Linked DNA regions of Homo sapiens. The protein of the gene in region 1 purifies or fractionates together with the protein of each later gene. This does not show direct contact. Each region holds a gene or a part of one and is shown in the gene's direction. Other genes may lie near its edges. The genes, in order: INSIG2, PPM1B, ELFN2, AFTPH, CYFIP1, TAGAP and CKAP2.

Evidence for each region.
Region 2: the proteins of INSIG2 (region 1) and PPM1B purify together in Homo sapiens (affinity purification with mass spectrometry, with the first as the bait; one large-scale study listed by BioGRID). This does not show direct contact.
Region 3: the proteins of INSIG2 (region 1) and ELFN2 purify together in Homo sapiens (affinity purification with mass spectrometry, with the first as the bait; one large-scale study listed by BioGRID). This does not show direct contact.
Region 4: the proteins of INSIG2 (region 1) and AFTPH purify together in Homo sapiens (affinity purification with mass spectrometry, with the first as the bait; one large-scale study listed by BioGRID). This does not show direct contact.
Region 5: the proteins of INSIG2 (region 1) and CYFIP1 purify together in Homo sapiens (affinity purification with mass spectrometry, with the first as the bait; one large-scale study listed by BioGRID). This does not show direct contact.
Region 6: the proteins of INSIG2 (region 1) and TAGAP purify together in Homo sapiens (affinity purification with mass spectrometry, with the first as the bait; one large-scale study listed by BioGRID). This does not show direct contact.
Region 7: the proteins of INSIG2 (region 1) and CKAP2 purify together in Homo sapiens (affinity purification with mass spectrometry, with the first as the bait; one large-scale study listed by BioGRID). This does not show direct contact.

What each region holds. Positions count from the first base shown.
Region 1 is NC_000002.12:118,098,471-118,101,970, forward strand, and holds part of INSIG2 (insulin-induced gene 2 protein), read left to right. Parts: intron 1-3,500. UniProt on the Homo sapiens protein: Oxysterol-binding protein that mediates feedback control of cholesterol synthesis by controlling both endoplasmic reticulum to Golgi transport of SCAP and degradation of HMGCR.
Region 2 is NC_000002.12:44,203,375-44,206,874, forward strand, and holds part of PPM1B (protein phosphatase 1B), read left to right. Parts: intron 1-3,500.
Region 3 is NC_000022.11:37,420,980-37,424,479, reverse strand, and holds part of ELFN2 (protein phosphatase 1 regulatory subunit 29 precursor), read left to right. Parts: intron 1-3,500. UniProt on the Homo sapiens protein: Inhibits phosphatase activity of protein phosphatase 1 (PP1) complexes.
Region 4 is NC_000002.12:64,562,328-64,565,827, forward strand, and holds part of AFTPH (aftiphilin), read left to right. Parts: intron 1-3,500. UniProt on the Homo sapiens protein: Component of clathrin-coated vesicles.
Region 5 is NC_000015.10:22,917,869-22,921,368, reverse strand, and holds part of CYFIP1 (cytoplasmic FMR1-interacting protein 1), read left to right. Parts: intron 1-2,510; coding exon 2,511-2,677; intron 2,678-3,433; coding exon 3,434-3,500. UniProt on the Homo sapiens protein: Component of the CYFIP1-EIF4E-FMR1 complex which binds to the mRNA cap and mediates translational repression. In the CYFIP1-EIF4E-FMR1 complex this subunit is an adapter between EIF4E and FMR1.
Region 6 is NC_000006.12:159,034,992-159,038,491, reverse strand, and holds part of TAGAP (T-cell activation Rho GTPase-activating protein), read left to right. Parts: intron 1-263; coding exon 264-378; intron 379-1,367; coding exon 1,368-2,665; 3' UTR 2,666-3,500. UniProt on the Homo sapiens protein: May function as a GTPase-activating protein and may play important roles during T-cell activation.
Region 7 is NC_000013.11:52,465,478-52,468,977, forward strand, and holds part of CKAP2 (cytoskeleton-associated protein 2), read left to right. Parts: exon of another isoform or gene 1-366; intron 367-2,800; coding exon 2,801-2,870; intron 2,871-3,500. UniProt on the Homo sapiens protein: Possesses microtubule stabilizing properties. Involved in regulating aneuploidy, cell cycling, and cell death in a p53/TP53-dependent manner.

The sequences.
Region 1 (3,500 bases):
TGGGTCCACATGTCACATGCTGGGGAAGGGAAAAGGAAGCTACTCACACTTTTCCCCCTACTCAGGATGCCACTTTTCAAGCCTCCAGACTGGGTGCCAGACCTAGATGGAATTCCCTGGCGTGTGTTGTGCATTTGGGCTGGGGCAGGAGAACTTAACTGAGGTTTCATTGTACCTCCACTATGAAGAGTAACAGGGCTGCACCTGCTGTCTTGTCCTTCTGCCCCTTTAATGTCAGCACTTTTGCCATAAACTTACATTTTAGGAAGGAAAATTTCAAATGCTAATACCACAGTTCAGCCACTACTTTCCTTCCTGTTCCCAGCCACTAGGTTTGTCACACTTACAAACTTAACCTCATTTGGGGAATTTGCATTTACATTTCTTGCTTAAGTATTTCTTCTGAAAGCAGTTTGTACCATAAGGTACTTGGGCAAAAGAAAGTAGAGAGACATTAGGAAATCTAGATTCCAGCCAATTCTGCTACCAATTTTGTTAGTTAAGTCATGGTGTTTAGTAGATGAGAGTGAAAGATATCAGATTTGTCCAAGTTGCCAGAGATGGAAAATGGATTCTCTCAAAATCTCTGCTCTGCCATCCCCTGCATCATTATTTTAGGGAAAGTATCATGGGAAAAGAAGTAAATGATTTAAGAAACATAGTGTGTTTGAGTTTGTGTGTGTATGTAATATGCATATGTTTTTGTGTATATGTGTTGGCGTGGATTTTCAAGACCTCGCTAGGGTCTTACCATCTTAAGTCAGAAAAACTGATAATCATCCTTTGATTTTCCTGTTCAACTAACATTCATAGATAGAGCAGCCACCTTTTGGAGGGGCTCCAGAATCACCACCTTCTGTGTGTAGAAAGTGCTCCTTGTTATTTGCCACCTTTCTCTATAGCACAATCCTGGAAAATTTGCTAGTGGTGGTTCTGGTGGGACAACTAATAGAGAACTTTGGTAAACTAATTTTGATGACTTTTTTTTCTTAATTCCATATTTTTAGTTTGATAATGCTGATGTTACAAGTTAACTTCCTTATGTGTGCCATGCACCAGAATTGGAATTAGAAATCTTTTCAGCATTATTGAGGGCCACAAAGAAATCTTTCTAAAGAATAAATAGAAAAAGACAACTCGTGTGGATAAAATAAGTAGAGAAGTTGCCTCAAAAATCACAAGTAGCCTGGTTGTGTCCAAACGTATGAAAATAATATCTAATGTAAAAAGAAAAGAAAAATCTTTCCTGTTTAGCTGTGCAGTCCCTTGCCCTATTCCTGTAGAGCCTTGTAAGATTCCTTGCTTTCTCTCCCGTTCTACATCCAGTTTCCAAGTCTTACATCTTTCCTCTGTCTCTTTCTTGGTCCATCCCTCAATGGCTGTGCTTGGAGTCTTTAGTCTTTGCCGGCCTCTAGTTTTGCACCCACCCTTTTCTCAGCCCCCTTGTATGGTACCCTCACTGCTAAGAAGATGGCCTCTCTCTGGTACAACAGTGATGACATTGTTTTCCTGATTGCCCATTGTCTGCAGGGTAAAGTCTTTATAATATGGCCCTTGACTGCTTTTTTCTTCTTCAGAGTCTTTCTGGACCCTGCAGCTCCCTTTGTGTCTGAAGCTTACAGCTTCCTCTTAACACCAGCAGTTTCCAGTTTTCCATGAATGTCCTCAGCCACCTCCCTTTAATGAGAGCACTATTTCTGCGCCATTTACTGCTGAATGCTCCTGCCTCAAGGGTCACCTCTTTCCGTGAAGCTTTTCTGACAGCCCAGCACCTTGCCTTCCCCTAGCACAGGCAAGGAGAAGCCTGGGACCCCTCTGTCCTGTCAGCTGCCCTTAATGCAGGATTGTATTTAATTGTTTCTGTGGTCACTTTGCAATTGGAATCGTATCTTACTCTTTTGCCTTTTTTTTTTTTTTTTTTTTTTTGAGACGGAGTCTCACTCCGTCACCTGGGCTGGAGTGCAGTGGCGCCATCTCGGCTTACTGCAACCTCCACCTCCCAGCTTCAAGCGATTCTCCTGCCTCAGCCTTCCGAGTAGCTGGGATTACAGGCGCCCACCACTACGTCCAGCTATTTTTTTGTATTTTTAGTGGAGACAGGTTTTCACCATGTTGGCCGGGCTGGTCTCAAACTCCTGACCTCGCGATTCGCCTGCCTCGGCCTCTCAAAGTGCTGGGATTACAGGTGTGAGCCACCACGCCTGGCCTTACCTTTTTAAATCTCCAGCAAATACCAAGAACCAGACATATTGTCAGGGCTTAAGTATTTGTTGAAGGAAAATATTATCTTATAGTTTTGCGTCGAAGTATACCTCATGGAGTGTTTTCGTTTATTCAGTTCCTGTTTTCTTACAAAATGTCTGACTTTAACTGTGTTCCTTTTAGTGCCTCCCTGCATTTAAGCACATTCCCATAAAAAAGTGATGACTTACTACTGATATTTTACAAACTTCTTTAGTGTTTAGCTTTGGTAGACTGTAACTAGTCACTGGGAAATAACTTAAAGGTATCACAAGAAATGTGATTTTTGCATCAGAGAACCATTTGATTTATAAGCAGGATTGTGTTTGCATATGATTTTACACAGGCATGATTTTAACAGTCTTTCTTGTTTTTTTTAAAAAAAAGTACAAGAAGAGGAAAAGAGGCCCAGACATACTCTGTTGAGCTCTCAAACAGTGGAACCTCACAGTGTTGTATATATTGCTATCAGACTCTGCCATGCCTTTATTTAAAGGAAAGAAAGAAGACATTTAATGGGAAGTGACAAGCTTCTTCGAATTCTCCCTCTCAGTGAGCAACTGAGAACCATGCATACTCAATGGATTTGATTTTTATTGGCAAATCCCAGGGTTGGCAGTGTGGCAGTTTAAATTTCTTTTTGTGTTTTTGCTTTCTCTCCTCAGTTGTCTCTCACTTGCAAGTCTGACATCACATGCATAAAAATATAGTCGATTTTACTTATTTATACCTTTGCACATACATGTCAGTATTCTCTATGTAATAATTCTTTACCTAGGCATCAGTTGCTCAGGAAAATTGACTTGGAATGTCTGCTCTTAGTTGACTTTACTCAGCAACAGGCAAAGGGAGGATATATATGGTGGGGGGATGGGGGTGACAAATGAGCTGTTAGTTTTATGACCCCTTGAGAAAAAAAGAGGTGATATTCGTTTAACTACATTTCAACTGTTAGGGATGCTTGTTGCCATTTTATTTGTATAGAAATTTTAAAATCCTGTCAGTTAATCTTGTCAGGATTTTGGAGCAGATTTTTAAATAGGAATATAGTGTGAAACTTCTAGATTTACTAATAGTTATTGGAGCTCTGCATTGCCGAGATATGTTCTTAATCTCTTGATGTTCTGTGAGCCATCTATACTCAGCACATGCCTAACTCAAAAGAGTTGTGGACTAGAAAATGCATACAGTATTGCAGCATCTCATCTCGAGATAGAAGGGTGGTCACACAGCCTTTTTCAAATGCTGCACCATTGGTC
Region 2 (3,500 bases), about 74 Mb from region 1:
CTCTAAATGAAGCAATTCTGACCTGTAGATTTTTGAGACAAGCATAGGCATATGTTTGTTGCCTGACTAGCTAATGAAAACAGCATTTTCCCCAATTATAAAAAAAAGGTATATACTTACTATTGGAAAAAAAATCCAGATGATGAAGAAAATATAGAGAAACACCCAAAATTTTGCCATCCACCCTAAGTCAGCTACTTTCATTGTTGTGGTGTATATTGTTCCAGTCTTTTCTGCCTGCCTGTGAGTGTGTGTATTTTTATAAAACCGAGATGATTATACTTGTTATTCTACAGCCTGCCTTTTCCAACAATATATTGTAGAGAGATCTCCATGCCTATAAGTATTGATCTGTATCATTTTTCTTGGCTGCGTAGTATTTTATTGAAAGAATGAGGTTGTGAGGGAATAGCCAAAAAATCTATTAGGTCTGTAATTTGGACTAAGGAAAGAAGTTTGTGTTAGTAGATTAACTCACTTATCCATTGAAAGGATGCTAGTTTTTGAGAATTTTGACTCGACCCTTCTGAATGAGGTTTAAATATTTCTGGTGGTATATCTTCACTTGCTAGCTTTTATCAATTTAGAGTGATTAAATGTTCATGTTGATGGTGTTAAAAGATTCTAGATGGCATCCTAGAATCTCAGAAATGAGGAATGATAATAACAGACAAGAAGTTGGGGCCCATGATTCATTCAATGTTAATGGAAGCTGACCATCATAGTTCCTTCTAATGGAGCTGCATTCAAATTGAAATCAGTTTGGAGGTTTGAATTGAAACAAAACAGACTTAAAATTATTTTTGAACCTTTGAAAGTTACTTATGGAAACCTTCATTTCTGTTTAACTTCGTAATTTTGTCTTTCCATTTATTTGTATTGTAAAAGCAAGGGTTAGCAATAAGATCAAATATAATTACTTTGAATTTACTCAGAAAAATTGTAAGTTAAAAATTCATGGAAAGCACTTAGCGATTGCACAGTAGTTACCTGCTGTAAGAGGAGAGGAAACATTAATAAGTAGATGTTTCCCTGATAAGAGATTTAAATGAAGTCCTAGTTTTTTCTAACACCTCCATCACTTGTCATACTTTCATAATTTATAAGCACTTTTATCTTAACTCATTAAATCTTGGGAGGTTATCATAATCATAATCGTGGTAGTATTAGTAAATTATTGCTTTCTGTAAGCCAAACACTATTCTAAATACTTTACATATTTTAACTCATGTAATTTTCACAACCATATGAGGTAGTTAAGATGACGAGGTCAGGAGATCGAGACCATCCTGGCTAACGCAGTGAAACCCCGTCTCTATTAAAAAATAGAAAAAATCGGCCGGGCGTTGTGGTGGGCGCTTGTAGTCCCAGCTACTCAGGAGGCTGAGGCAGGAGAATGACTTGAACCCGGGAGGCAGAGCTTGCAGTGAGCCGAGATCACGCCACTGCACTCCAGTCTGGGTGACAGAGCGAGACTCCGTCTCAAAAAAAAAAAAAAAAAAAAAAAAAAGATAAGCATTTTTCAGGGTTGCCAGTTAATATTAATCTGTAAGTGTTGTATGACTGTGGTCAGGTATTATCCTATTTAAATTAGGTATTTAACTCGAGGGGAGAATGGGAGCTAAGAAAGCAACCCTCCCATTTTATTTGCAATGCTGGCATTTATGGTGTTTACTGCCAACTAATTTCGGGTTGCTTAAAATATGTAACTGCCACGTGCATAGCTTTTCATAACTTGTAAATGATACATACTTATTAATCCTCATAGTAACTTTCTGAGGTGAACAAAATAAAAAGTTTTTTTAATTTGCAAGTAAGGAAATGGAGGTTGTTTGATATTAAAAGATATCCATAAGTCATATACTTGGTGAGTATTGAGGCTGAGACTAGTTTTCTGACTCAAGTTTAGTATTTTTGTTAACAATATTTCCCAGAAGGGCCTGATAAAATAAAGAAGAGTGGGTGTGGGTGTGGGTGTGGGTGTGTGTGTGTGTGTGTGTGTGTGTAAGTGTCTGTCTGTTTCGGTTTTCATGGTCTGAGAAATTTTTCCCCAAGGGAAACATTAAGACTAAATTTTTTTTGTAACAAATACAGAGATGTTTGAAGTAAAGTGATTCCCCTTGATGTTTCTGCTTTCCAGTCTCATCTCACTTAGGGAACCACTGCTCATGGTTTGCTGTATATCTTTCCAAATGGTTCTCTGTGATTATTGATAGAAATGTATAAACGTAAAATAGGATTTTTTCTTTTTTTGTATTTTATAGAAAAAGATCATGCTATGTTTGTTACTTTGTCACCTGTTTTGTTTTTCTTAAATTATAAAAGTCGGTATTCTTTTAAATTGTTCTTTTAAAACATTATTTGATTTTCCAAAATTTCATTTATATACCATCTACCAGAAGCCTATTTATTTTAAAACATGAGATAGTACCTCATAGTTGGATAAAATTGAGGGAAATTATCATTTTCCAAAGGCAACATCATTCTATATTAATTTATATAACATAGAAAATGTAACCCCCTCAATAATTGTTTAGTTCTAAACTCAGGAGAATTGCTTGAACCTGGGATGCAGAGGTTGCAGTGAGCTGAGATCGCGCCATTGCACTCCAGCCTGGGCGACAGAGTGAGACTCCGTGTCAAAAAAACAAAAACAAACAAAAAACTGTATCAGATTGTTTTCTGTTTAAGTTTAGATGCCCTTATTTATGGCAGGGGCACTGGCGTCTTTGATCTGGTACTATGATTATTAAGAGTGTTAACTGCTGTGCTGTTGTAAAAAGTAAAAAGAACATGTAATAATCAATTTTTATATGCAGAGCTAATTTCTTTAGTTATCCAAACTGGATTTAGAAAAAAAAATGTTTTATTTATGGACTTAGTGAAAACTTTATACTGATTATACAAGGATGTTTTGTCTCTAAAAAACAATGGCACAAAGGAAAGGACCTTTTCTGTTGCTGTATAACAGCTACTGAAACATATTCATACTTGGTGTTTAGGGGAAAGCCATCTTTACATAGAAATAGAAGCAAGCCAGGCAAGGTGGCTAAGAAGCAACATCACTGAAATCACACATGCCTGAGATGTAAATATAAATTATTTCCCTTAAATGTCTTTGGAGAACCATAAATTTATTGGAACTCTCTTTCAATTAATTTTCCAAAAGTATTTATATTTTATAACTTACAAAAATCGAATGGAAATTAGATAAGGAAATGTTCCACAATGCTCATGTTGTTGTTACCAAAAACTCAAAAGGGTTAAAAGAAATTAGATTTCTAAAAGTGTAAGGTGTTAATTCCGTTTATGCATAAAATTGCTTTATAAAGTGTAATTATGCTTGATTCTTTTTTTGTTGTTGTGTTTTAGAAAGGGTGTCTCACTGTGTTGCCCGGGCTAGTCTCAAACTCCTGGCCTTAAATGATCCTCCTGCCTCAGCCTCCCAAACTGCGGGGATTACAGGCAGCCACCATGCCCAGCTGTTTGATTCTTGAATA
Region 3 (3,500 bases), on another chromosome or scaffold:
GCTCCAGAAACAGTCAGCGTGATAGGAACGGGCACACTCAGCAAGCCTTCTCCAGTGGGGCGTGTCTAGGGCGGTCACTGGGGGCTCCATGCCTGTTCCTCAATATCCCCTGAGGTCTTGTAGGATGCTTGTTTTTGGCAGCAGAATTGGGTTCCAGTGACACCCCTGCCGCATCTGCATCCTGGCTGTGTGTGACAGAGGTCAGCCTCTCCTGTCTCTGTAAGAGGGTGGTGGCAGCTTCCCTTGCGGGTGTGATGTGTGAGTGTGAAAGGGTGACAACCGTGTGCAGGGCTGGGAGGCACACATTGCTGCTACCCTCACCTGCTCCGGCCACAGTGCCTGGGGGCCAAGCTCCTCTCTCGGTGCCCCCACCTGCCCCATGTTGTGACATGTGCTGTGTGGAGTGGATGGCCGAGAAGTAGGATTGCCTCGAAACCTGACGCTTCTTAGCAAGTTAGACCTCTTCAGGAGCTGTGTTAATCGTCTAGAAGGTTTACCCAGTCCTCTGCCTCCTGCCGTCCCAGCCCAATCCCTGATTAAATTAACCTTCTCTTGGCTCAATTACCACCTGGGGCAGAGGCATTGACATTATTACTGGAGATGGTGTCTGGGGGTTGGAATAATTGAGCCCCCTCTCCTTCCCCCTAGCTCTGCCGACAGTCCCCAGGAAAGCCCCAGAGAAGCCCTGAGGACTCAAGAGCCACCTGGGCAGGCTTGCTTATGCCTGGGGTGCCAGAGGAAGGGTGCTGGCTGCACGATGCTGCTGATTGAAATAGTAATAACTATAGTGATAATAATAATAATGATATCAGCTAATATTATTGAGCCCCTACTGAGAGCCAGGCCCGGTTCGAAGCTCTTTATGGGCGGCATTCGTTTAGTCCCACAAAAGCCAGCTGCAGCAGGCACTATTATTATTCCTCATTTTGAAGACAAGAAACAGAGAGGTTACAGACCAGTCCAGGGCCACACAGCGATGGAACCAGGACTGGAACCCTCGAAGGGAAACTCTCACATCAGCACCATTGGCTGCTGAACTCCTTTGCCAGATGGGCCTGGAGGCCTCTACATCTTGGCCTACCCCTCTCACTGAAGGCCCTTTCTGGGCCTTGCTTTGCTTATCTGTAAATGGGTGCAGTGACCCTGCCCTAGGGAAGCTGGGGGTGGCGGACGCCCTTTGCTTTGGCTGCAAGGAGAGACAGGAAAGGAGGGGCCTCGTGGGTGGTGCCTGCATCTCAACCCCCCATCCCATTCCCCACAGAGATGGGACACCCCCAAAGGCAGCCCTTTGCTCCCTGGCCCTCCCACAGTGCCTCGAACAGCAGCGCTTGGAGGGCTCCCCCGGGTGACAGTGGGGAGGTTGCCCCAGGATCAGTATCTTCTTCAGGTCCCGAGTCTATCGTGGCCTCAGCTGTGGCCCCCTGGACTCCCCACCTGGCCATCTTGCTTGTGGAAAGGGCAGGGGCAGGGCTCCAAATCCAACCTCTTTTCCTCCTCGGTGTGGGTCCTGGGCAAGTCACTTCCCCCCCCCCCCCCGAGGCCCAGTTTCCTCAATATGAAGTGGGGACAAAAGTACCGAATTCTTGGTTGGGCGTGGTGGCTCACACCTGTAATCCTAGCACTTTGGGAGGCCGAGGCAGAAGGATCACCTGAGGTCAGGAGTTCGAGACCAGCCTGGCCAACATGGTGAAACCCTGTCTCTACTAAAAATACAAAAAATTATTCGGGCATCGTGGTGCATGCCTGTAATCCCAGCTACTCAGGAGGTTGAGGCAGGAGAATCGCTTGAACCCAGGAGGCCCAGGTTGCAGTGAGCCGAGATTGTGCTACTGCACTCCAGCCTGGGTGACAGAGTGAGGCTCCGTCTCAAAAAAAACTTCCCCAGTAGCTGGGATTACAGGCACACACCACCACACCCGGCTAATTTTTGTATTTTTAGTAGAGACGAGGTTTCACTATGTTGGTTAGGCTGGTCTCGAACTCCTGACCTCGTGATCCTCCCTCCTTAGCCTCCCAAAGTGCTGGGATTGCAGGCGTGAGCCACTGTGCCTGGCCAGAACAACAACAGCAACAATAAAACAACCAAAAAACAAAAAAAACGAATTCTTAACCCTTCTGGGTTGTCTTAAAGGTCATGCTAAAGGTTAGGTAAGAGAAGACCACGTGTATAACATCCTGTCTGGCATGCGAGATGCCATTATTTTCCTCCCCCTTCCCATCTGCCCCCTCCGTTCATTCCTGGCTTCCTGGAAGGGGTCTGCACTGTGCATGCATGTGTCTGTTTCTTTCCCATCCTTTTCACCCTCTGCTTTTCACCGCCTGAAGTGCATGGGTACTGCTGGGGTTGGGGGCGCCTAAGGATGCATGAAAAGAGCCTGGGTGCTGCCAGCTCTTGTGACTGTTTGTGTACACTGGTCACCACCTCTCTCAGGGGGAAGTAGGGAATGAATCCCAAGGCTGCCTGACCAGCCTGCCGTGGGCCTAGTCCCAAGACTCAGGCCTGACTCAGTTTCCCTCCTTGGCCCATCTATTATCCTTCTCCCCCTACAATTGCCCCTGAATCTTGGAGAGACAGAGGCTGTGGGGTCAGCCGACCTGCCTCACTCCCTTCCTGGCCCTTCTCATTCCCCAGTGGATTTCCTACATCTGCCTATTGCCTGTCTTATTTCTCCCACTTCATGTCAGCTCTGTGCAGGCGGAGACTGGTAGGCCCTCAAAAAATACTTATTAAACAAATTCCTTTCATCTACATGCTACCGAGGACGGATCGCTGCATTTTGCATTCAGATGGCGCGTGCACACACACCCTTATTAGCATGTTTCACCCAGGGAGAAATGCTGGGCCCCGGGGCTCAGGCAGGAACCCCCAGAGAGGAGCCCCTGCCTGGCAGAGCTCAGGGCCCTGGAGGAGAGGTGAGACACGGGAACCTCTGACAAGTGCCCAGCATGGGGTCTGCACACAGTAGGGCTTGCTTGACAGGTGATTCTTGTCCCTTTGTGACCTGACCGAGAGGGGGTTGCTGCTGCAGGCTGGAGGCCAGGTGTGGAGCGAGCCTCCCAGGCAGGGCTGGAGAGTTTGTGCCAACTTCTGCTCTGGGCTTTGCAGAATTCTCTCGATTATGCACCTGCTATGTGCCAGGCATCGGGCAAGGCGCTCTCTGTTATCTTGTTTAACTTTGGCTGGAGGATTGTGAAAGAGGTCCTGCCTACCCCTGGGTGGGGGCATGCCATATGGAGTGACCGTGTGAGCAGGGGCCCGGAGGTGGGGAAGCCCAGAGTGGATTTTGAGAAGATGAGTCTGGACATGTAGTTTGAGGAACAACCACACGGGACCATCCATGCTGCGCCAAGAAATTGAGTAATATCCTTTTTGTCAGGGAGCATTAGAATCTCTGGGTGTTCGTTAAAATGCAGATTCTTGGGCCCTGTCCACTGAGATTTTGATTGGGAGAGTGGACGAGGGGAAAATTGCAGGAACTTGCAATTTTAATGCTTTCCCG
Region 4 (3,500 bases), about 54 Mb from region 1:
AGGCGAAGTGCTTTTTTTTTTTTTTTTAATCTGGTGCACATTAATACCAACTATGTGCAGGAACCCAGGTACTGGAAATTCAAGAAAAAGACATAGTCCCTGCCCTCAAAGCTCTTGCAATTTTTAGAAATTGAACTTAGAACTGCTTTGATGACAACATAATATAGTGGTTAAGAGCACCTACACTGAAACTATACTTCCTGGGTAGGAACTCAGCCTCTCCACTTAATATTCATGTGACCACAGGGAAGTTAACCTCTTTCTGCTCTGCTTTTCTCATCCAGGAAATGGAGATGATATTATTACCTCCCTCATATGGTTCTTTTGAAACTTAAATGAGCTAAACTTTGTAAAGCATTTAGAATAATGTCTGCCACATGGTGGGCACTATGTGAGCATTAAATGAAAATTATGTTACATGATAGCAAGCTTTTGCAGCTTCTGAGTAGGTTTCAGAGTACATCTTTTGATCTTTTGCTGAATTTAGGCTCCCACTTTCCTGAACTGGGTTAAAATGATATTGTTTGCTTTACTTATACTGCCTTACGTGCCTAAGGAAACTAGAGCTCAGCCAGTGTCACTTCACCAATTCTAAATAATAAAGTATCTATTTTTTGGAATTTTACATCTAATTCAAGTCCACACGTACTGTAATATGTTAGTAAATGTCACTGTTTGATGCAACCTTTTTCTGCATTAATCTGCTACAGGGAGTTTGAAGATTTGTGTTGTGCCCCCACCTAATCAAAACCAGTAGATTTCCCATTATGGCTGCATATACTCTGTATTGAAATAGGAGTTCACATAAGCAGAGTAATATAAGCAAAGTTCCTTTGTACTCATAAGAAGAAATCCAAGTTTAATATTTTACTTTAACTAGAGTTTTGATGTGATACTGAATTTTACTACTGATTTATTTGCATATGTTAAACTATCCTTGGCTGATGTTGAGAGGATGATTGTATTGTAAAACAGATGAAAATAATATATGTACCCCCAAAAAATTTTTGAAAAACAAATTTGAAACCTTTGCCACTCTCACAGTTTTGATACACCTTTTATCCCAAGTGCTCAAATTTTATGTTCAAAATAGCAATGATTTCTTTAAAAAATTAGTGTCTGATCACAATCTGTTTGGGAAAATCTATTTCCTGAAAAAAACCTGTCTGGTCATAAGAGAAACTGTTCTTGTGGTAGGTTATTTTAACTTCTCTTCTTCTGAGTATTACATTAGTTATATTCTTGTAACTGTTCTACTTACCAAGTTATTTGGACTATGTTACATCACATTTTTGAATGTTTAACTTTATTGTGCTTCTTGGAAAGCAAAGTACTCTTTTTGAGATGGAGTCTTGCACCTCTGCCTCCCAGGTTCAAGTGATTCTCTTTGCCTGGGCCTCCCCAAGTAGCTGGGATTACAGGCACCAGCCACCACGCCCAGCTAATTTTTTTGTACTTTTAGTAGAGACACGGTTTCACAATGTTGGTCAGGCTGGTCTCGAACTCCTGACCTTGTGATCTGCCTGCCTCGGCCTCCCAAAGTGCTGGAATTACAGGCATGAGCCACCGCGCCCAGCTGAGAAGCAAAGTATTCTTAATGCCTAATGTGTGGTTTATACATTTTGTGTTTCATAATGCAATCAAGATTTAAGTCATAATGCCTGTAAGCCAACCACCAATATCCAAAATTTAAACTCTACAAGGAGTAACTATAGCAGGTTTCATTTATATAAGAGACTCTTAAAAATAGATACTCTTAAAAACTAGGTACTTTTTTTTCCCCCAACTCAATAGGATGACCTTGGGAAGGATGCAGAATGCTTAGATTATTTAATTTCTTGTTATATCATAATATGGTAGAAATTGATAAATTGAGATAAGTATTTTCATAGTGATTTAGAATGCTAAATCATGGTAGAGAAACATTCTTAGTGAGCTTTGATTCTAGTTTTGCCATTCATTTATTTCATTCCCTGGCAAGCCCCCTGTGTCTGTATGTATCATTTGTATAATAACAGTAGTAATGATAAAAGCTGCCACCTCTGACACCCTCGGTGCCAAATATTTAATCCTCTGAATTATCATCCACCTCGTGAGGTAGATAGACCCTGATATCTCCAGATTATAAATGCAGAAACTGGGCAGAAATGGTGGTAGACGCCTATAATCCCAGTTACTTGGGAGGCTAAGGCAGCAGAATCGCTTGAACCTGAGAGGCCAAGGTTGCAGTGAGCCGAGATCGCACCACTGCACTCCAGCCTCGGTGACAGAGTAAGACTCCATCTCAAAAAAATAAAAAATAAAAAATAAAATAAATAAATGCAGAAACTGGAGTCTTGGCCCCTGGATCTATAGCCCTCTATTGAAGTGTTATTATACCAGTCATTTACTTACTGGAATTAACTAGTAGTAAGTTAAATTTGGCCTTATTTATTACCCAAAACAAGATAGTGGTGAGAAACTCATTACAGGATGCCCTTACCACCAAACTGGTCTTATGGAAATTGATACACTTTTTTTTTTTTTTTAAGACCAAGTCTTGCTCTGTCACCCAGGCTGGACTACAGTGGCATGATCTCAGCTCACTGCCACCTCCACCTCTCCTGGTTCAAGTGATTCTCATGCCTCAACCTCCTGAGTAGCTGGGACTACAGGCGTGCGCCACCATGCCCTGCTAATTTTTGTATTTTTAGTAGAGACGGGGTTTCACCATGTTGGCCAGGCTGGTTTCAAACTCCTGAGCTCAAGCAATCCACCCGCCTCGGCTTCCCAAAGTGCTGGGATTACAGGCGTGAGACACTGCACCTGGCTGGAAATTGATACACTTTTAAAAATAAAATGTCAGAGTAAATTTAATAAAAATATTTGGGCTGGGCGCAGTGGCTCACACCTGTAACCCCAGCACTTTGGGAGACCGAGGTGGGTGGATCACGAGGTCAGGAGATGGAGACCATCCTGGCTAACATGGTGAAACACCGTCTACTAAAAATACAAAAAATTAGCTGGGCGCGGTGGTGGGCACCTGTAGTCCCAGCTACTCGGGAGGCTGAGGCAGGAGAATGACGTGAACCTGGGAGGCAGAGCTTGCAGTGAGCCGAGATTGCACCACTAAACTCCAACCTGGGTGACAGAGCGAGACTCTATCTCAAAAAAAAAAAAAAAAAAAGCCTTTGTTCATTCTATTAGTTGCTGAATTGTTGAGGAGTTTCCCTCCCTGTGTTGGGCAATGCTGTTAGTGGATTCTGGTTATTTATTATTTACTGCTCTACCTCAAGGGGCAAACCATGACCCACAGGACAAATCTACTGCCTGTTTTTGTAAATAAGTTTCACTGGAACATACCCATGCTTATTCCTTTACATATGGCCTACAAGGCCTAACATATTTACTGTCTGGCTCTCTATAGAAAAGATTGCTAATCTCCTGCTCTATCTTATTCAACGTAAGATTTGAAGCAATCTAATGTAATATCTGATCCTAAACATATATGAAACTTTCTT
Region 5 (3,500 bases), on another chromosome or scaffold:
TGAGACAGAGTCTCGCTGTGTCACCTAGGCTGGAGTGTAGTGACGCCATCTCAGCTCACTGCAACCTCCACCTCCCAGTTTCAAGCAGTTCTCCTGCCTTAGCCTCCCAAGTAGCTGGGACTACAGGTGTGCACCACCACACCAGGCTAATTTTTGTATTTTTAGTAGAGACGGGGTTTCACCATATTGGCCAGGCTGGTCTCGAACTCCTGACCTTGTGATCCGCCTGCCTCGGCCTCCCAAAATACTGGGATTACAGGCATGAGCCACTGCGCCCGGGTGCTTTTAGTTATTTTTCTTCGATTTTGGGGGGGTTTATTTTGCTGTTTTCTATAAATTAGTGATGAATGTTTGATAAGTATTATGATTTTTATCCTTTTTAGTTTTCTAATGCGTGCATCTAAAGCTCTCAGTTTGCTGTTAACTTGCCTTTTCCTTCTTCCTGTAAGTGTGAATATGTAGGATTGTTATGTTCACTTAAATGGGTTTTTCCTCGTTTGGTTTTTTAAATAGAACTTTTCTTTTTTGTTGATTGGAAAAACAATATAAAATCATCAGTTTTCCAAAGTAAGCATGCTGAAAACACAAGCATGGCATTAGGAAGGCACAGTGCCTGCGGCGCCATCACAGAGATGGCGCTGAGCAGCTGGGTGCGTTTTCTTCCAGACTTTTTCCTTTCTAAAATTTTCATTATTTTAATTGCATATAGACCATGAGTCTTACATGAAAGCAGTCTATTTGGAAATTCTTTACGTTATAGAAGGATGAATTAAAAGCAGACTGTCAACTTTTCCACCTGAAAATTTCATGAAAAAGAAAAGCACCAAAATCATATAAGCCATGTTTCAAGTACTTGTCAGACACGTCTTCATTTACCCATGAATCAGGCTGTTTATAAAGCCATAATGAGGAACTCAAAAGGTGTGAATAAAACCAGAAAGTGATAGAGGGAGACTGTGTGAAGCCTTGGGGAAACACATTTGTGTTCTTGCTAAGTGAACTTCAAACCAACAGATTTAATAAAAGTAGGAAGATGCCTAGCCAAGCATGGTAGTGCATGCTTATAGAACTAGTTACCCAGGAGGCTGAGGCAGGAGGATCGATTGACCCTGGGAGTTCAAGGCTGCAGTGAGCTATGATCATGCCACTGCACTCCAGTCTGGGCAACAGAGTGAGACCCTGTCTCAAAAAAAAAAAAAAAAAAAAAAAGCTGCCTTAATTTTGAATCTGTCAAATACTTAATTTCAAAAGGTTTTTTTTGTTTGTTTGTTTTTTGTTTTTTTTTATTACTGTGGACTGAAGACCATTTTCAGATGTTGAAGTAGGGTTTTTGTTTTGTTTTGTTTTGAGACAGGGTCTCGCTCTGTCACCCAGGCTGGAGAGCAGTGGCATAGTCATGGCTCACTGCAGCCTCGAACTCCTAGGCTCAAGTGATCCTCCTGGCTTAGCCTCCCGAGTAGCTGGGACTATAGGCTCATGCCACCACACCTGGCTAATTTTTAAATTTTTTGTAGAGATGGGGTCTGGCCATTTTGTTCGGGCTGATCTTGAACTCTGGTCTCAAGTGATTCTCCCGCCTCAGCCTCCCAAAGTGCCAGGATTATGGGTGTGAGCCACTGTGCCTGGCCAAAGAAGGGTTGTTAAGATTTTCCCAAATGTATTAGTCTTAGGTACAGCGTTCTAGTTAAAAGATAAAAAGAAGTGAATTATGTTTCACTGGTGCTATTAAATGTTCCACTTTGGTGTCTTATATGTCAGACATCCACACGGCAGGGTGGACTTGGGGTAAGTGTGTCTTGCTCTGCCTCACTTGCTGCTTTCAGAGAGATTTCTAGGCCTCACATAGCTATCATGAAGTTGGCTGTAGAAATATTTATAAACGGCAAAAGCCGTAAGAAAGCTCATGCAATTGTAAAGGTCATACTTGGTTTGTGACCTTCAATTGTTTATTCAGAAAGTAATAAAGCACACTGTCATGACAAAATTACTGTCTGGAAACAGGGAAATAATGAGCCCTGGCACCATTTTTCTGTCCCAGGAATTCCTTTGGAAGCTCTTTGTCATGTAATTATGTTCCATCAGAGTCTTCCAGGCTTTTTCTGTGAATGGTAGTTCACTGCGCCTTTGTTGTGAACAATATGGGATTTGGACTACAACCTCTTGTAACTTCTTTTTCTAGTAATATCATGCCTGCTTTCCTGAGTCTTTTTCTTCTTTCCTATTTGAATTCCATCACAGGAGGGTGTGCTGGGGTGGATGCATGTGTGTTTCGAGTCAGATGCATCCCTGTCCTCCAGGTGCTCATGGTCTGATGGGGAGTCAGATGCGGGCACAGTTCCATTGACTATGGCTTTGGAGAAGACGTTTTGGGGCAGGGCAGCTGCAGGGCACGAACGCGGGAGGGCGTAAGGTGCTGTGGGCGAGGAGGAGCAGCCCCCGGCATGTGCCAGGCAGAGGAGGCTTGGTGCCATCCCTAAGAAGGGCCGTCCCTGTTGCTGTGTCCCCCGCAGGTGATCGCCATGATCAAAGGCCTGCAGGTGCTGATGGGCAGGATGGAGAGCGTGTTCAACCACGCCATCCGGCACACCGTCTATGCCGCACTGCAGGACTTCTCCCAGGTGACCCTTAGGGAGCCGCTGCGGCAGGCCATCAAGAAGAAGAAGAACGTCATCCAGAGGTCAGCCTTCCCCACGCCCTGTGCCCGCTGTGCCCACACGTCCTCGGATGAACTTGGATTCAAACAACAGGAGCGTTAAATTCTCAAAAATGATTTCAATATATTTATCTTCAACCTTCAGATGCCCTCTTGGTGAATTACCTCTAAAAGTAATGCATGGGTCCAATTATTAACCCAAACAATGGACAGTAAGTCAGCTGCCGAGTGTCTAGGGAGTCTGAGGACCCCGGGACAAGGTGCATTTATCCCAGGCTCGCGGTGCCTGTGGTTCATGCATGGTGCCTTATGGGGGTCTCTGCACGGTGGAGCCCTGTTGGTGATGAGGCTGTGTTCCAAACCAGTCGAGAGACATGGCCAGGCTCTGGTCATGTGGGTGACTTCACATTCCTGTTGGTTACTGGGGACAGCCAGCTGCGGGCAGGCGGGGCCCAGCTCTGCTCCGTGCGGAGGCTGTGTTCTGCCCTCTCCCTGCCCACAGCATGACTCAGAGCCACCTCACTGCTGCCCTGGGCTAACAGATGCGAACTGGAGCTCAGGGCAGTCTTCTGGGGGTAGTAATACTCTCCAGAAGGCAGACTCCTTTTTAACTTTCCTGTTGAGCTGGTCCATTACCACATCCCTCCATGGCCCCCAGAGTAATTTGTATTTTCATGGGGGCTGTTCTGAGAGCCTTGTAGTTGGGTGAGGAGATGGTGTGATTGTGAGGCTGGAGGTCTCGGCCTCTGGGCCTTGCTGATCACTTGGTGGGGTGTTCAGTGTCCTGCAGGCCATCAGGAAGACCGTGTGTGACTGGGAGACGGGGCATGAGCCCTTCAATGACCCA
Region 6 (3,500 bases), on another chromosome or scaffold:
GCTTGAGCCCGGGAGGCAGAGGTTGCAGTGAGCTGAGATCAGGCTACTGCACTCCAGCCTGGTGACAGAGTGAAAGCCTGTCTCAAAAAAAAAAAAAAGTATCTGATTGTTACCAAATTTCTGTATGCTCTTTTCAGACACATAAAGATCTCAGATTCTCATTTTGGCACCTGACTCCAGTGTCCCCATTCTTCCTCACCTCCAAAAAAAAAAAAAAAAAAAAAAAGTCTTCAAGCTGACAAATTGCTTACTTTTCCTCACAGGTGAAGACACTGGTGGAATTCCTCATTGATAACTGCTTTGAAATATTTGGGGAGAACATTCCAGTGCATTCCAGTATCACTTCTGATGACTCCCTGGAGCACACTGACAGTTCAGGTATGGAATGTGCTATCATTTGATTACGATTGTAGGGAAAAGTTCATGCCAGTCTGCCAGTCATGTAAAGCATCTCTGATATTTGAGGCAGAAGTTACCTTCACAAATCACCGAGTCAGACTAGACTCCAGTCCATTAGGAAGTCATTAAACATGAAAACCCTGCTCCGGGCTTTTCCTGCAGCGCCTCCTCAGACCACAGATAGTCTTTCCCCCTTCCCAGTGTACATCGCAAATCACTGCTGATTTCACTAAGCTACCTTTAGCTCTGGAGTTGGAGTGAGAAACTTTTGTTTCCACTTCATGGGATATGACTCCATCACAATGAAAATGGGTCCAGTAAAAGGAGCAGTTTTAAAAATTAAGGTCAATACATTTTCAGTGAAATGCTGTTCTCTCTTTTCTTATTCTCTCCTCTCTTTCTCTCCTTCCTCCCTCCTTTACTCATTTCCTTTCCCTATTTTTCTTCTGATCTCAAAATAAATTCAGAAAGAAATAAACTTTTCATGTGGTACATTTCTTGTCATATCAAGCCCCTAAGTAGTTCTGCTAATAAATCACCTAGTGCCCTGATTGGTATGAGCAGGGCGAACTGTAGCAAAGTTCATTTCTAAAAGAACCTAAATGGCCGTGTGTGGTGGCTCACGCCTATAATCCCAGCACTTTGGGAGGCCAAGGCAGGCAGATTACCTGAGATCAGGAGTTCAAAAACAGCCTAGCCAACATGGTGAAACCCCGTCTCTACTAAAAATAGAAAAAATAGCCAGGCATGGTGGCGGGCACCTGTAATCCCAGCTACTGAGGCTGAGGAAGGAGAATCACTTGAACCCGGGAGGTAGAGGTTGCAGTGAGCCGAGATCACATCACTGCACTCCAGCCTGGGCAACAAACCGAGACTCCATCTCAAAAAATGAAAATAAAAAATACAAATAAAAATAAATAAATAAATAAACCCAAACAAATGTTCAACTGCTGCTTGACTTCCCCCAGATGTGTCGACCCTGCAGAATGACTCAGCCTACGACAGCAACGACCCTGATGTGGAATCCAACAGCAGCAGTGGCATCAGCTCTCCCAGCAGGCAGCCCCAGGTGCCCATGGCCACAGCTGCTGGCTTGGATAGCGCGGGCCCACAGGATGCCCGAGAGGTCAGCCCAGAGCCCATTGTGAGCACCGTGGCCAGGCTGAAAAGCTCCCTCGCACAGCCCGATAGGAGATACTCAGAGCCCAGCATGCCATCCTCCCAGGAGTGCCTCGAGAGCCGGGTGACAAACCAAACACTAACAAAGAGTGAAGGGGACTTCCCCGTGCCCCGGGTAGGCTCTCGTTTGGAAAGTGAGGAGGCTGAAGACCCATTTCCAGAGGAGGTCTTCCCTGCAGTGCAAGGCAAAACCAAGAGGCCGGTGGACCTGAAGATCAAGAACTTGGCCCCGGGTTCGGTGCTCCCGCGGGCACTGGTTCTCAAAGCCTTCTCCAGCAGCTCGCTGGACGCGTCCTCTGACAGCTCGCCCGTGGCTTCTCCTTCCAGTCCCAAAAGAAATTTCTTCAGCAGACATCAGTCTTTCACCACAAAGACAGAGAAAGGCAAGCCCAGCCGAGAAATTAAAAAGCACTCCATGTCTTTCACCTTTGCCCCTCACAAAAAAGTGCTGACCAAAAACCTCAGCGCGGGCTCTGGGAAATCGCAAGACTTTACCAGGGACCACGTCCCGAGGGGTGTCAGAAAGGAAAGCCAGCTTGCCGGCCGAATCGTGCAGGAAAATGGGTGTGAAACCCACAACCAAACAGCCCGCGGCTTCTGCCTGAGACCCCACGCCCTCTCGGTGGATGATGTGTTCCAGGGAGCTGACTGGGAGAGGCCTGGAAGCCCACCCTCTTATGAAGAGGCCATGCAGGGCCCGGCAGCCAGACTAGTGGCCTCCGAGAGCCAGACCGTGGGGAGCATGACGGTGGGGAGCATGAGGGCGAGGATGCTGGAGGCGCACTGCCTCCTACCCCCTCTTCCACCTGCTCACCACGTAGAGGACTCAAGACACAGGGGCAGCAAAGAGCCACTCCCTGGCCACGGACTCTCTCCCCTGCCTGAGCGATGGAAACAGAGCAGAACTGTCCATGCTTCTGGGGACTCTCTGGGGCACGTGTCTGGCCCAGGGAGACCTGAGCTCCTCCCGCTGAGGACCGTCTCCGAGTCCGTGCAGAGGAATAAGCGGGACTGTCTCGTGCGACGATGTAGCCAGCCGGTCTTTGAGGCTGACCAATTCCAATATGCCAAAGAATCGTATATTTAGGAGGGAGGCCATACGCCATGCCATAGCTTGTGCTATCTGTAAATATGAGACTTGTAAAGAACTGCCTGTAGATTGTTTTTAAAAGGTCTTGAATAAGCTCCTTGAGAAAGTTGTGGAAAGCCCTCCTCAGTGAGGATAGCTACACCATGGCCATGGCGCATCAGATAGTCTCTGTGTACCTGGATTTGTGCAATATGTAAAAATGTATCAAATGTATTATAGATAAGGTGTTAGGTGCAAAGGATGTCTAATAATCCCTGCACACGTTTTGAACTTGCAGTGAAGTACACTGCTGTTCCTTGCTTCCTGGGGCACTTTTCTCTTGGTTAGTGTTTAAAAATTATCTTCGCTTTTTTAATGTGGCCTCAAATGTCATGCCAATTTTCACATCTTCCACAAACTCCATTTAGGGAGAAATGTTTAAATCTCTGGTATAAGTTTACTCCATACCAGAGTAAACTATATATTACTCTATATAAGCAGTCTTGCAATAACTAATCACCACCATAGAAGAAAGAAACAGACTGCAAGGAACAGAGTTGAGTGTCTGGAGTCATCAAAGGCATTAAAAACTCCAGTAAAAGCTGGGGCCGTAGCAAAAATCATGAAAAACACTTCAACGTGTCCTTTCAATCATCCAATTAAATGTGGGTAGATTAATGAAAATGTATTACATCAATATTAACTCATCTATAGCACTTTGAGTATCTTTGTAGTTCATGATATCCTATCCTATAATGTGGAGGTAAATGATTTTATATGCATTGGGGGTCATATATAAAACTTCAATGTAATTTCACTACAATAAATTGCCTTCCTTATTTGAAAGTAAAAA
Region 7 (3,500 bases), on another chromosome or scaffold:
TTTACTGATCTTTACAATTACAGTGTAGTAGACAATTCGGAATTAATTTGAAACACATCACAACATAACTTGAGAAAATTTTCTTTGTATATGTAGTGGTAATAAATGTTTAAAGGCTGCAAGGATTGCATTATAAAAGCTGTTTGTTGGCTTTCTAAGTCTTTTATTCCTGTATTGGGAATAATCAGATTTTAGAAAATGGATATAAGCTGAAATGTATATTTAATGAAACTTTCTGCATGAAATGTTTTAGCATATTATTGTATGCATTTCCTGGTTGGAAGTTTACTGGGAGACTGAATGTAATATTAAAATTTGTTTATTGAATATAAAGCAAAAGGGATTAAATTCGCTTTTTAAATGTTATCAAGCTCTCTTGGTTTTGTGTGAGAACTCTTTAAGAGTAAACCCGAATGTACTCATATATGTATATATATACACACATATATATACACACATATATATACACATATATATGCACACATATATACACACATATATGCACACATATATGCACACATATATATACACACATACACATATATACACATATACACATATATACACACACACATATATATATAATATGTATACACTGTATATATTGGTCCTTTCTGCATACAGAAAATGGCAATAAACCGGTTTCTCTAACATTATTACCTCTATAGTGCCTCGATACCATACTCCTTATCTCTTCTAGCGTATTGATACACAAAGTTTTGGGTATAGAATAAATCATTTCTTGAGTTTTTTGTTTGGTTGGGTTTTTGTTTTTATGGATACATGTTCTTCAAATATGTTTCCTTTTGACCAGGTTTCTCAGAAACACATTCTTGGAGATTGTTTACATAGATAATTTTTTAAAACTCCCTTTTAAGAAAGATCTATTCACCTTTGTCTCAACAAAATCAACGAACGCTATTTGACTTTTCACTTAAATAAAAAATCAGATATTCAGCAGATAGTCTGTCAGTGGCTGTCATGTGTAAAACTTTCTAGAATGGTAATTATATTTGACAGAATGCTACCTGGAGGGGAGTGTTAGGCCCCTACTACATTGTATCAGAAGGGACATTACTTAAGGCAGCTAAGGACATTGTAGCAAGGATGCAAAACTGGAGCCAAGGCTCACATAGAAAGCAATAATGTAAACAGCAAGATGTAACACCAGAGGAAAAGCTGCTGGAAAACAAGAATCAAAATTAGCCAACATGGCTGGGCACAGTAGTGGATACCTATAGTCTCAACTACTTGGGAGGCCAAGGTGGGAGGATTGCCTGAGCCCAGGAGTTTGAGTCCAGCCTGGGCAACATAGACCCCATCTCTTAAAATTAGTGGCCAGGCATGATGGTTCACGGCTGTAATCCCAACACGTTGGGAAGCCGAGGCGGGAGGATCGTTTGAGTCCAAGAGTTCAAGACCAGCCTGGGCAAGAGGGTGAGACCCCCCATCTCTGCAAAAAATAAAATTTTTAAAGTTTTTTTTTTGGTGGTAGACAGTTGTGGTCACAGCTATACGGGAAGCTGAAGTGGGAGAATTGCTTGAGCTCTGGGGTTCAAGACTAGTGAGCCATGATTATGCCACTGAACTCCATCCTGAGTCAACAGAGCAACACCCTGTCTCAAAAAAAAAAAAAAAAAAAATTAGCCAAGAAAACTGAAAGCAGGATAGCTGAGTAATTCAGGACTCAGTTCTGGAACTAAGACTGTGAATTACACCTTCCCTAATCTTGATTGTGTTGGGTGGAACATAGCAAATGCTTAGGTAAATAATGGTCACTTAGTAATTTTTTGTAAATTTTTGAATGAATGAAGTATGTTGAGATGATCAACCTTAGCTCTTCAGAGATACATTTCATAGCATATGAAACAAAAATATAACCATAGACTTAAATGTAAGAGAAAAGGAGCAAGACTTAAGTAAAATTATGGAGGAAGTTTTAAAATATGAAATTCTAGGCCAGGCGTGGTGGCTCACACCTGTAATCCCAGCACTTTGGGAGGCCGGCAAATCATGAGGTCAGGAGTTCAAGCAAGCCTGGCCAGCATGGTGAAACTCTGCCTCTACTAAAAATACAAAAAATTAGCTGGGCATGGTGGTGCCCACCCGTAATCCCAGCTACTCGAGAGGCTGAGGCAAGAGAATCATTTGAACCTGGGAGGCTGAGGTTACAATGAGCCGAGATCGCACCACTGCATTCCATCCTGGCAATAGAGGGAGACTGTCTCAAAAAAAGAAAAAAGAAAAAAAAGGAAAAGAAATTCTATCCTTCATTTTTACTCTATAAATTGGAAAAGACAGCCATTTTTCGTTTTTGGTTTTTTTGTTTTTGTTTTTGTTTTTTTTTTTTGAGATGGAGTCTCACTCTCTCGCCCAGGCTAGAGTGCAGTGGCATGATCTCGGCTCACTGCAAGCTCCGCTTCCTGGGTTCACGCCATTCTCCTGCCTCAGCCTCCCGAGTAACTGGGACTACAGGCGCCTGCCACCACGCCCGGCTCATTTTTTTGTGTTTTTAGTAGAGACGGGGTTTCACCGTGTTAGCCAGGATGGTCTTGATCTCCTGACCTCGTGATCTGCCCGTCTAGGCCTCCCAAAGTGCTGGGATTACAGGCGTGAGCCATCGTGCCCAGCCAAGACAGCCATTTTTCAATCTTAATTGTAAGTGGTCTGAGAAGCATGGTTTAAGAGCCACTCTTACTTTAAAATACAGTATGAAAATTTAATCGCGACTTGGATACCTAGTTAATGTCAGAGAAAATAAAACTTACATGGATCTGCTTTCTTCATTAAAAAAATTAAGCCTATTGAAGAGATGCGACACACGATTGTAGATATTCTAACAATGAAGAGTCAAGAAAAAGCTAATTTAGGTAAGTTTTAGTTATTTTATTTCCTTCATGTGAACTGTAGTTTTTTTTTGTTGTTGTTTTTTAACTTTTATTTTAAGATCAGGAGTACGTGTGCAGGATGTGCAGGTTTGTTACAAAGGTAAATGTGTGTCATGGGGGTTTGTTGTACAGATTATTTTATCACCCAGGTATTAAGCCTAGTATCCATTATTTTTCCTGATCCTCTCCCTCCTCCAACCCATGTGCCCCAGTGTGTGTTGTTCTTTAGCTGTCCATGTGTTCTCATCACTTAACTCCCACATGCAGTATTTAGTTTTCTGTTCCTGTGTTTGCGAAGGATAATGGCCTCCAGCTCCATCCATGTTCCTGCAAAGGACATGATCTCATTCCTTTTTATAGCTGCATAGTATTCCATGGTGTATATGTACATTTTCTTTATCCAGTCTATCATTGATGGGCATCTGGATTGATTCTATGTCTTTGCTATTGTGACTAGTGCTGCAATAAACATATGCGTGCATGGATCTTTATAATAGAATGATTTATATTCCTTTGGGTATATACCCAGTAATGGGATTACTGGATTGAAAGTATTTCTGTCTCTAGGTCTTTGAGGAATCGCCACACTGTCTTCCACAATGGTTGAACTAA